Linked DNA regions of Homo sapiens. The protein of the gene in region 1 purifies or fractionates together with the protein of each later gene. This does not show direct contact. Each region holds a gene or a part of one and is shown in the gene's direction. Other genes may lie near its edges.

Evidence for each region.
Region 2: the proteins of PLXNA4 (region 1) and NTRK1 purify together in Homo sapiens (affinity purification with western blotting; 2 studies listed by BioGRID, with this or other methods). This does not show direct contact.

The regions. Positions count from the first base shown.
Region 1 is NC_000007.14:132,566,277-132,570,292, reverse strand, and holds part of PLXNA4 (plexin-A4 isoform 1 precursor), read left to right. Parts: intron 1-4,016. UniProt on the Homo sapiens protein: Coreceptor for SEMA3A. Necessary for signaling by class 3 semaphorins and subsequent remodeling of the cytoskeleton. Plays a role in axon guidance in the developing nervous system. Class 3 semaphorins bind to a complex composed of a neuropilin and a plexin.
Region 2 is NC_000001.11:156,880,108-156,882,350, forward strand, and holds the end of NTRK1 (high affinity nerve growth factor receptor isoform 2 precursor), read left to right. Parts: coding exon 1-50; intron 51-1,349; coding exon 1,350-1,535; 3' UTR 1,536-1,743; downstream 1,744-2,243. UniProt on the Homo sapiens protein: Receptor tyrosine kinase involved in the development and the maturation of the central and peripheral nervous systems through regulation of proliferation, differentiation and survival of sympathetic and nervous neurons.

The DNA.
Region 1 (4,016 bases):
GAGTCAGTTGGAGTTCGTTTTCTTCCTCTCCATCTCAGGCCTGCTTTCCTGAAAGTAATACTTAAAATAGACTAGAGTTTCCCAAAGTATATTCTGCGGGGGAGTCAATAGGCATTACATGCAAAAAAGTTTCCGCAGTCAAGTAAGTTTGCAAAACCCTGGGTGTAAAGCAAAGCTAAAGATACTCCTTGCTGCAGGACTTCTCAGAGCCTTTAATACACTCACATGGATTGTGAAATCACAAAAGTATATAAACTGTGTAGTGGACCTGGAATCCACTGAGAAACACTGGACTAAGACAAGCACTTTGCTATGACTACTGTCAAATGTGAATAAAGGGGTGGCTTCTACAGTGAAAATTTCCACTGAACCTTTGCATTACGTAAACCAAGTACTGGATTCTGGTGATTGTGTGAGCAATAGATTCTCAAGCAGAATTGTGCCAGATAGGTACAGAGTCCACCTCTGGCCTCAGCATTTGCTCAGCCTTCTTCAGAGCCTATCCTGTCCCTTGTCTTTCCAAGGAAAGAGACAGCTACTTAGGCACGTGTCCATTTTCTTAGGTTCCTAGATGATTCCAATATGTCCCCTTGCTTAAAAACCACTGTTGTGGAAAAAGCTAGGCTTTGGATACAAATAGATGTAGATAACTCTAACTAAAGCATTTTGGGAAAAATCATTTTATGTTTCAGTTTATTGTTTATAAAATGAGGAGGTTAGTCTAGATCGGTGATTAAACATATTTTAACATGTATACAGTGAAAATCTTTGCTCCAGTGAAATTTTATATGGAATTCCAGTGCACAGAACAGATGCAAGCAGGACTATTCTTGTCAAAACTATGGAGGGCCTGGGCCTTGTGCCCCTGCCTGTCTGTCCTTCACTCCAGTCACAGCCTGGGTTCCCTAGAAAGTAGAGCTCAAGGAAGAAGCTATGTGTTATGACTTTATTGAGGGGTGAGATCCCGGGGAAGCAAAAATGAAGCAAAGGAGGAGAGGTAGGGAAGGAAGGAGAACAAATAGTGTATTACCAAGCTGGCCCTGCCTTCCCAGTGAAAAGCAGCTGGTGGCTCAGTCACTCAGGAGGTATCCAGGGAAGCCTGGTGTGAACAGTATGTCTCAGAATAGTCTGTGGTGGTGAGGCACAGCCAGCAGTTAATCCACAGGTCCTTCTGGTCTGCTGTAGCTCACTGGTCACAAGTCACCCCACGAGGCATGAGTCAACTCCCCTCACTTTGGGGTTGGGAATACCAGGTCAAGCTAGAGCCTCTGTGGGTCAGGCCCTGGGGCTGGGGCTTCCTTGGCTCTCCCTGCAGAAGGTATGTCAGGGTTACCCCTGCAGGAGCCCAGCCTTTGACTCTGAAGGAAGAAAAGACAGCAAGAACTTTAGGGCCAGAGGAACAGCAGAAAGCGTCACTGGGGGCCTCTTGTCCATTAGATACTGACTCTGTTTTCCTCCCTAAATACATATGCTTGCCCCTAACCACTGATTGATGTGAGCAACTCACTGACTTAGAGACGTGGGTCTGCGGTAGGGCATCTGCCTGAGAGTTGCGGCTCCTAGAGGGTAGGGTCAGCCTCTGCTTCCAGCAGTGTCTTGTTTAATCAAGAGCTCAATTCCTGCTTTTTAATAATGGTGAAGAAGCTGCTCCTGGCAGTGGCAATGATAACAAGGATTCAACAGGAAAATGGCTGCAGTTCAGAATTGGGGTGGGGTGGCGTGATGTCAGGTGGGACTCAGCAGATTTGGGCAGATACATAAATTGGGAGTCTGGGATAATGGTTTCCATGCAAAGAACATAAAGTTCTTCAGAACAGAGTCAGATGGCAAGACAGGGCAGGGTACTCCAATTAGGAGCCCCAGAATTCACGAGTCTGTGTCAACACTAGTCGACTACACTATTATCCCATTTAAACCCCAAATAGAAACCACATTAAGAATGGGTGCCAATCCGATTTCTGAAGACTTTTCTAATGTTTTGGGGCTTACTAAGCAACAGCCAGCCTTCCGCATAGTGGTGTGTGACTATTTCAGGGATGGCACGGCTGCTGGGAAGCAGGGGGAGGTCGTAATGACCTCTGCCACCCTCCCAGTTTTAAGAAATAATGAAAGCACTGAAATATAATGCAACAGGGGACATTTCTGCATAAAATATTTCCTGTAAGTCATTGCTTCTAGCTAGTCCTGCCCCTCATCAACGTTTTTTACTACTCTTGTGCTTTGAAGGCCCTTTAGGGTCAGGCTGGGGAGAGGACTAATGGTCATGCTGTGCTTGTGACCTCTTTCCCTGCTCTCTTGTCCATTAGATACTGACCCTATCTTCCTCCCTAAATGCACTTGCCCCTAACCACTGATTGATGTGAGCAAATCACTGACCTAGAGACGTGGGCCTGCATTAGGGTTTCTGCCTGAGAGTTGCAGCTCCCAGAAGGTAGGGTCAGCCCCTGCTTCAAGCAGTTTTTTGTTTCATCAGTAACTCAATTCATGCTTTTTAATAATGGTGAAGAAGCTGCTACTGGCAGTGGCAATGAAAACAGTGGGAATCATGTATTTCTTTATGTTTTAGGTTGAGAGGGATCATTTCTTACTTCTTGTATACTCATTGCCCAACCCAGAGCCTATCTTACTGGAAGCAATTGATAAATATTTGCTGTAAAAATAGAAGGAATAAATGGAGTAGGATAAGGTGGAGAAGAATGACCTTAAAAATATCAAGGCTAGGGTGAACCAGACTAATATGGTGGGTTCTTACTCTGCAGCAGGGACAGAGTAGGGATCACATCAAGTCAGACTGACTGGCTATTCCAGAGGATTCAGATGAATCCAGATGGGTACAGGCTGAGCCCCTCAGTTACCCTCCAGCATCCTGGGTCATAGTGGTTGGGGACAGGTAGGTGCAGTGGTCTTGCACATGGATGCACATGGAATTAAATTATTTCTCTCTGTGTAAAACTCACTATGGGTTTTGGCACTGATAGATTGCGGCGGGGGGTGGGGGGGAGACCAAGCTGAATTTAGCAGAACATTCCAAAGACTAGTCTATAAAATCCTCCATGGAAAGAGCATTCTGTGACCAAGTAAGTTTTGCAAGCATCCTCTCTTTTGTCCTCTTCAGGAGATGCATAAGGGCGAATTAAAGGTGAAGAAGACCTGTTGTTGGGAAACCTATTTATTCTTTGCCCACTGCTTTTCAGGTTATTGGGCCATGGGGATCCGTTTGTGTGGGAGTATTTAAGCCTATTGATGTCTCCTGGAAAGACGGTTCCATAGAAAGGCATTTTGGGAGATGGTGACCTTCAACTGGAAGCTTTCAAGTTTTGGTTTACTTCAGAGGTGAAAAAACCAGAAGAATGAATTCACTGTACTGATAAAATAGGGACTTGTAGGGACTTGTGACCCCAACTTTCAGAGGCACCGCCTGCCTCTTGTCCTTGTCATTTGCTTTTGAGACTCCCAGAAATGACTGCGAATTCTCACAAAACTTTAGCGACAGTGGCCTTGTGATCTGCCTTCAGGTGTATATTTCATAAAGAAACAAATTCAAAAAGTGTGAATGCCACTCTGACAGGTTTGTGGACATGTTTCCCACAAGTGGCACTTTTTGGTTGCACATAACAGATCAAGATGGATGTTTGCAAAATATGTGAGTAATGACATTCACCTTCTCAATTTTTTTTTCTCCAACTGCTTGAATAAGAGGCTTCAATATAACTGACAAAGATAAATGTTCTTTATCAAATTAACAAAGGAAGCTTGAGTTATTAAGACACATCTCCCTAAACTTTGGACGGTTGAAACAAATTTTCTCTTGGGAAGAGAAAACTTTGCCATCCAAGAAAAGGCTGAGGATTTCTAATTAGACTGTAAATCCATGGTTTCCACCACTGGGTAGTGACCTGGAGAGTGAAGTTAGGCATTTCCCATGGAAAGCGTTTTCACTGCCTGGCATTCATCTCACATAGGTAATGATTGTATGTGTGTGTGTGTGAGAGAGAGAGGGAGAGTGTGGGAGTGTG
Region 2 (2,243 bases), on another chromosome or scaffold:
AGATCTTCACCTACGGCAAGCAGCCCTGGTACCAGCTCTCCAACACGGAGGTCAGCCCCGGCCCATGGTCACCCCTTGCTGGCCTCCCCGTCCCATGCCCCTTCAGGTTCCTTTTTCAGGGAACTCGGTTCCCCTTCTGCCCCTCTGCCACAGCCTGTTGGGGGGCCCTTTCCAGCGCCGTGCCCACACTGTGTCCCCTCCACTGTGGCCCTTTTCTTCTCTTCCTCCCTTATTCTTGCCTTCACCTACTGTCCTAAGCCCAGGCCCAGTTGGCCCCTGGGGGAACCTCAAAGTGCTTTGTACAAGGAGCCCAGACCCCCATCCCTAGCTGCATTTTATAGACCTAAGCAGGAATTATCAGAGTGGAAGGGACCAGCACGGGAAGAGGAACCCAGCACAAGAAGGCCCAACACTGCAGCAGGACGGCTGGAGGTTAGACTGTCAGAAGGACAGTCCTACCCCCTCCCCCTGCCCTCCTAGCTGGCCACAGCCAGAGCAGGCCCCAGGTGTTCTGTCTCCCAGAGCAGCTGCCCCCACCCCCTGCTTGGCTCGCAGCTGTCAGTTTCCATTTCTCCTCCTAATGCAGTCTGCTCCCCGGAGGCTGGTGGGGTGGGGGAGAGGGTTATAGATTTTAATTTTCTCAAGCACTGAGAGAAGAAATGGAATTAGTGCCGCCCATAACCCAAGTCCTCTAATAGGGAGGGGGGAAGAAGGGGAAAAGAGGCTCCAGGCCCCTTCTCCAATCACTCCCTGCCACCCTTTCTCCTTTGGATTCCTTGGCTGCTTTAGCAGTTCTTCCTAGAGTCTAACTTTGATCTTTCTTGCTGCAGTTTCTTTTTGGGAGAGCTAGTCAGTCCCACAGAGTGGTATCCCTAGAAGGGAGAAGTAAGGATTGCCCTCTTCTTTAAAATGAAAGCCAGCTATTTTTCACGCCCTTTAACTGCAGTTCTGCTCTATTTTCTTTTCTCTCTCTGGAGCTGAGAGTCAGAGGGCCCTTCTCCTCCTCCTTTCAGCCCCCAACACTAAGCTGATGGATTGATAAATACCTCAGCCCCTCGCCTTCCTCAACCCACCTGGCAAGTCTTCTTAGGATCTGATCCCAGTTTTCTGGAAGCAATCCTACCCCAGCCCAAGCTTCCCATAGTCGAGCCTTAATCCTTCTCACTTCTCAGTGTCAGAGCAGAAATGAATCCTGGGGTTGACTGTGTCCATTCGGGTTATTAGCAGCTAAGAAGCCCAGACGAGTAGTGTGAGCTGCCTTGGGAGCCTCAGTGAGGGCACTGGGACTGGCCTCACTCTCTTGCCCCCAGCCTAGTGGGCTTTCTCCTCTGTCTCTCCGGTGGCCCCAGGCAATCGACTGCATCACGCAGGGACGTGAGTTGGAGCGGCCACGTGCCTGCCCACCAGAGGTCTACGCCATCATGCGGGGCTGCTGGCAGCGGGAGCCCCAGCAACGCCACAGCATCAAGGATGTGCACGCCCGGCTGCAAGCCCTGGCCCAGGCACCTCCTGTCTACCTGGATGTCCTGGGCTAGGGGGCCGGCCCAGGGGCTGGGAGTGGTTAGCCGGAATACTGGGGCCTGCCCTCAGCATCCCCCATAGCTCCCAGCAGCCCCAGGGTGATCTCAAAGTATCTAATTCACCCTCAGCATGTGGGAAGGGACAGGTGGGGGCTGGGAGTAGAGGATGTTCCTGCTTCTCTAGGCAAGGTCCCGTCATAGCAATTATATTTATTATCCCTTGGCTGTGTCTCTTGCCAGTTATTGGGATGACGTCGTTCCAGGAGGGAGGCATTGGGATTCAGGTAGGGGGACAGCTCTCTGGGATCTTCCCCCACTCAGGTTCCCCTCAGCTGCCTACCCCTACTCCATGGACCTGTCACTCTCACCTTTGACTATAGTTTGGATCCCATTCCCATGGTCACCTGGCTCACCTGCTGGTAAGGCAGCCTCTGGTCAAACTTCCTAGACCTTGAGAGCCTAACTGTCAATCTTTGTAGTTCATGTTCAGGAAGGCTGGGCTATAGTGGAAGGGGTGGAAGTTAGATGTACTGGTAGGATGGGAGCGTTGATGGGGTGTCTTCCTTGTATTGGTGTGTCCGGGACAGAGCAAGCACGCAGCAGCAGATGAGAGAGAAACATGTGTGTGTGTGTGTGGGGTGATGGGGGGCAGGAAAGGGACGGAGCTGGACTAAGGATTGATGGAGGCAGGACCCCTTGTTCCTGCCCCTCTGTTACTCTTCT